2 linked regions of the Homo sapiens genome follow. The protein of the gene in region 1 interacts with the protein of each later gene in a pairwise test. Each region holds a gene or a part of one and is shown on either strand. Other genes may lie near its edges.

Evidence for each region. The genes of interacting proteins can lie anywhere in the genome.
Region 2: the proteins of DCDC2B (region 1) and FHL5 interact in binary tests that used the Homo sapiens proteins (3 or more experiments, as listed by UniProt).

The regions. Positions count from the first base shown.
Region 1 is NC_000001.11:32,212,089-32,214,390, forward strand, and holds part of DCDC2B (doublecortin domain-containing protein 2B), read left to right. Parts: coding exon 1-113; intron 114-401; coding exon 402-548; intron 549-665; coding exon 666-705; intron 706-2,302.
Region 2 is NC_000006.12:96,569,628-96,573,127, forward strand, and holds part of FHL5 (four and a half LIM domains protein 5), read left to right. Parts: intron 1-3,500. UniProt on the Homo sapiens protein: May be involved in the regulation of spermatogenesis. Stimulates CREM transcriptional activity in a phosphorylation-independent manner.

The DNA of each region.
Region 1 (2,302 bases):
CTGGTAAGTCCCCCATTTAGTCTGAAGCTGTCCCAGGCTGCCAGCCAGGACTGGGAAACTGTGTTGAAGCTCCTGACTGAGAAGGTCAAGTTGCAGAGTGGGGCTGTGTGCAAGTGAGTATGGGGACTGCGAGGGCCCAAAAGTCCCCAAAGAGAGCCTCGCCACTGGCTTCAGCTGTGGCTGAGGATGAAGAGGCAAAAGGAAAGCATGTTCCCCCACATGGGACTTCCCCCTATGCCACTGGGAGAGGGCCCTCTGCCCAGCCCTCAGAGGCAGGGTAGAGCCTGGGTGCCTAGAGGCCAGAGGGCACCTTGGAATAGCTGCACCCACCCCTTCAGTCTGCTGAATGTGAAGAAGCATCGAGTCTACCAGCCCTTATCCTCCTCACCTCTCTCTCCCAGACTCTGCACCCTAGAGGGGCTCCCACTGTCAGCAGGGAAGGAGCTGGTAACTGGCCATTACTATGTGGCTGTCGGAGAGGATGAGTTCAAGGACCTTCCCTATCTGGAGCTGCTGGTGCCCAGCCCCTCCCTGCCCAGGGGCTGCTGGTATGTATGTGGGAGGTGGAGCGGTAACAGGCCGGGCAGAGGAAGCCACCCTCTGGGTCTGTGTGCTTTGACTCTATGCCCTCTGCCCACTACAAGCCTTTCCTTTTGTCATTGTAGGCAACCTCCAGGCTCGAAGTCTAGGCCCCACAGGCAGGGGGTAGGTGACGCAGGGGACAATGAGGGGTGGGAAGAAGGGGAGTGACTGGCTGACAACTCTTCTGGCACAGGCTCTGACCTTATTTCACTGCATCCTCTCTTTTTTCTTTTTCTTTGAGACAGAGTCTTGCTCTGTAGTCCAGGCTGGAGTGCAGTGGCAGGATCTTGGCTCACTGCAACCTCCGCCTCCCAGGTCCCGGTTCAAGCAATTCTCCTGCCTCAGCCTCCTGAGTAGCTGGGATTATGGGCACGCTCCACCATATCCAGCTAATTTTGTATATTTTTAGTAGAGATGGGGTTTCACCATGTTGGCCAGGCTGGTCTTGAACTCCTGACCTTGTGATCTGCCCGCCTCAGCCTCCCAAAGTGCTGGGATTACAGGCGTGAGCCACCGTGCCCGGCCTCCTTTTTTCTTTTAAATATAGAGATGAGTCTCACGATATTGCGAAGGCTGGTCTTGAACTCCTGGGCTCAAGCAATCCTCCCACCTTGGCCTCCCAAAGTGCTGTGATTACACTATGCCCAGCCTGCATCCTCTTAATAATTTTTTTTTTTTTTTTTGAGACGGAGTTTCACTCTTGTTGCTCAGGCTGGAGTGCAATAGCACAATCTCAGCTCACTGCAACCTCCACCTTCTGGGTTCAAGTGATTCTCCTGCCTCAGCCTCCCGAGTAGCTGGGATTACAGGTATGTGCCACCACACCCGGCTAATTTTTTTTTTTTTTTTTTTTTTTGAGATGGAGTCTCGCTCTGTTGCCCAGGCTGGAATGCAGTGGCGCAATCTTGGCTCACTGCCAGCTCCGCCTCCCGGGTTCATGCCATTCTCCTGCCTCAGCCTCCCGAGCAGCTGGGACTACAGGCACCCACCACCATGCCCGGTTAATTTTTTTTGTATTTTTAGTAGAGACGGGGTTTCACCGTGTTAGCCAGGATGGTCTCGATCTCCTGACCTCGTGATCAGCCCACCTCAGCCTCCCAAAGTGCTGGGATTACAGGCGTGAGCCACCGCGCTCAGCCACACCCGGCTAATTTTTTTAATTTTTAGTAGAGACAGGGTTTCTCCATGTTGGTCAGGCTGGTCTCAAACTCCCTCAGGTGATCTGCCCACCTCAGCCTCCCAAAGTGCTGGGATTACAGTCGTGAGCCACCTCGCCTGGCCACTCTTAATAATCTTGTGAAAGAAAGATTATCCCCATTTTCCAGAGGTGGAAACTGAAGCTGAAAAGTGAAGTGGGCCTTGGGCACGATGGCTCACACGTGTAATCCCAGCACTTTGGGAGGCTGAGGAGAGTGAATTACCTGAGGTCAGGAGTTCAAGACCAGCCTGGCCAACATGGTAAAACCCCATCTCTACTAAAAGTACAAAAAAATTAGCTGGGCATGGTGGTGGGTGCTTGTAGTCCCAGCTACTTGGGAGGCTGAGGCAGGAGAATCACTTGAACCTGGGAGGCGGAGGTTGTGGTGAGCTGAGATCACACCACTGCACTCCAGCCTGGGTGAGAGAGTAAGACTCAAGTCTCAAAAAAAAAAAAAAAAAAAAAAAAAGTGAAGTGATTTGTTCAGGGTGACAGAGTTATTGAGTGGCAGGGGCCAGACCA
Region 2 (3,500 bases), on another chromosome or scaffold:
ACAATTGTTACATCTTCTTGCTGAAGTGAAAATAACCTTGTCTCTTTTTGTTTAAAGTCTGCTTTACCTGATATAAGTATAGCTATTCTCCCTTGCTTTTGGTTTCCATTTGTATGGATTTTTTTTCCATCCCTTATTTTTATTCTATATGTGTCTTTTTAGGTGAAGTGAGTTTCTTTTAGGCAGCATATACTTAGGTCTTTTTTTTTTTTAATTCATTCAGCTAGTCTATATCTTTTCAGTTGGGAATTTAGTCTGTTTACAGCCAAGGTTATTATTGATAAGTGAGGACTTAACATCCACCATTTTGTTGTTTTCCTGTTGTCTTGTATATCTTTTGTTCCTTTCTTTTTCTCTTATAGTTAATCATTGTGGTTTGGTGGTTTTCTGTAGTGACAAGGTTTGATTCTTTTCTCTTTCTCCTCATATATCTGCTCTACCAATGAGCTTTATACTTTTGGTGTGTTTTCATGACAGTGATTTTCACTTCCAGATGTAAGTGAAAATCACTTAAGCATTTCTGGTAAGGCCAGGTGAGTGGTGACAAATTCCTTCAGTTTTTGCTTACCTCGAGAAGGCTTTATTTCTTCCTAATTTCTGAAGGATAACTTTGCTGGGTATAGTATTCTTAGCTAGCAATTTTTTTTCTTCTTTCACCATTTTGAGTTTATAACTCTATTCTCTCCTCGCCTGTGAGGTTTCTGTAGCAAAATTTACTAGTCTAATGCAGTTCTCTTATGTGACTTGACAATTTTCTCTTGCTGTTTTTAGAACTCTCTGTCTTTGACTTGTGACAATTTGCCTATAATGTACCTCTAAGAGGACCTTTTTGGGGTTGAATCTATTTGGGGAATTTTGAGTTTCCTGGAGCTGGATGTTCAAATATCCCTCCTCCACAACCCCCACCACTAAATTGGGAAGTTTTCAGTTATTATTTTATTAAACAGGCTTTCTATACTTTTTCCTTATCTTCTCCTTCTGGAAATTCCATAATACAAATATCTGTTTGTTTAATGTTTTCCAATAAGTCTTATAGGAATTCTTCACTCATTTTCATTCTTATTTCTTTTTTCTTTTCTCTGACTGGGTAACTTCAAAAGACCTAGCTTTAAGTTCAGAGATTCTTTTTTCTGCTTGATCAAGTCTGCTGCTGAAGCTCTCTATTGTATTTTATATTTTATTCATTGAATTCTTCAACTGCAGGATTCTTGTTTTGTTCTTTTTATGATTTTTATCTCTTTATTGAATTTTTCATTTATATTGTGAATTTTTTTCTTATTTTATTTAATTGTGTATCTGTGTTTCCTTGTATCTAATTGAGTTTCCTTACAATCATTATTTTACATTTTTTTGGCAATTAATTGATTTCCTTTTAATTGGAGTCTGTTACTAGAGAGTTATTATATTCCTTTGTTGGTCTCTTATTTCCTTGCTTTTTCATGTTTCTTGTGTCCCTGCATTGATGTCTGTGTATCTAGTGAAATAATCACCTTTTTCAAACTTTCTGGAGTGATTTTCATAAAGAAAGTCTTTCATCCTGCAGTTGAGTTTTACTGTGCAGTTAGAAAAGGTGTAGTGACTCTGTTTCCAGATAGGTATAGAGATAGAGTCTCTGTGCAGCTTCTTCAGTTGTATTCAAGGTCAGGAATAACTGTGGGTGCCTCATAGCCTACGCTTAGAGGTTTGTGGCAATGGCACTGGCAACATAAGTTTTTAATGTTCTTTGTGTTAAGGGCTTCTGGGGTCCTCCTATTCTGGTTTTCTCTAAAATAAGGAGACTTAGCTGAGCGCATCCCTTTTGGTGTCAAGTCTGACATGGCCTACAAGCAGCTGCAGTGGCATGGGTTCTACGTGCAGTGATCAGGATTCTACATGCAGTAGGAGTTTTCAGCTCAGTATCTCATAAAGCTATTGAGGCAACTGGGCTTGGGGTGCAGCTTCACCCCTTGTGGCAGGGTTGGATGTAGGTTACCCATAGAGCCAGGATCTATGATTCTGAGGGACCCCCTAGCAGCTCAGGCTCAGGGTGCCAGGTTGTAGCTGTGATTCTACCCCTGGGGGGCAGGGCACAGCACTGGCCTGACTCCAGGGAATAAGGAGTGCTCTGGAACTTTGGCCTTGGGAGCAGGGTATGGCTGCAATTCAGAAACCTGAGTCAATAGGGCTCAGTGTCAACTCAGGTTCCAAGGGATGAGGCACTGGGTAGTAGTGATTGTAGACCCTGGGATAGTGGTGCTCAGCAGTATCCCAGAATGTGTGGGGCCAAGTGTATTTGCTTTCAGTACTCCAGAATGGTGGAGGACAGCTGTTGTTTGTTCCCTGGGTGACAGGTGGGTAGGAAAAAACACAGCAATGACTCCACTCCCTAGATAGAGGGGTACTTCTGCATCTGAGACTCTAGAGAGCTAGGCCAGTGCTGGGGAATCGAAGTCTAAAATTGTTCAGTTTATAGAGCAAGGTGTCTCAGCTCAGTTTCTGCTCAGCTCAGCCAGAGCACTAATTCCCCAAGGGACAATGTGCCACTTCAGCTCAGGCTTGAAGGATGTGACTGTTCTGGGCTGCACAAGCACTGTTTTCTTGGGATGCGGGGCATCAGTTCAGCTTAAGTAATGGAGTGCATGACTGCTCTGGATGGCCAAGGCACAATTTCCTAGGATGCAGGGCACCACTTCAACTTAGACACCAGGGAGACATGACTGCTCTGAATAGCCAAGGTACTGTTTTCCCAAGAGACAGGATGCTGCTTCAGCAGGGGCAGGGGGAGGAGTTGGTAGAGCAATTCCACCTCCACTTGACCCCACAGGAAAAAGTGTTAACAGCTGTTAACAGCACATATTGGGGATGTGGGGCTCTGGGGATGGGGTGGTTCAGGGGTGGTTTAGTCTCAGGGATGAAGGGGAGCCATGACTACTTACTCCTTGAGTAAGGCTCAGTCTAGCTGTAGTTCCTGTTCCAAGATGCCATAGCCAATAGTCACATGGGCCACAGCAGGTGGGGCACAGTGTCAACTCCTTCTCTGGCTAAGCACAGCTATATAGACTCCAGGCAGCTTCACCATGTGGGCTTGGTGCCTAAGAAGACTGCAGAGAACACCAGTGGGAAGGTCTGTTGGTGTCCAGGGTGTTGATGGAGATTGTTGGAGTCATCCTGCTTACCTCCTCACCATAAGAAGTTCCTCCTGGCTTCCAGCTGATCCCACTTGGGGGATGGGATGGTGAAGGCCTGGCATTTCCTTATTCTCTATGTAGCCATCCTGAGTTTTTGTGCTCACCCAAGTTTCTATTAGTTTTAAAATGCAGCTGCTTTTCCATTGTTCTGGCTGTCTTTGACAGAGGCATAAGCACTAGGGGCTTCTAGTTGGCTATCTTGCTGCTATCTCTCTGACCTTTAATACTTTTAGAAAGAAGATTAACCGTTCTCCTGATCAAGGTATCAAACTATTTATTATCTTTGACAGTACCAAAAAGTCATACATACATGTAATTCATTCATTCATATTT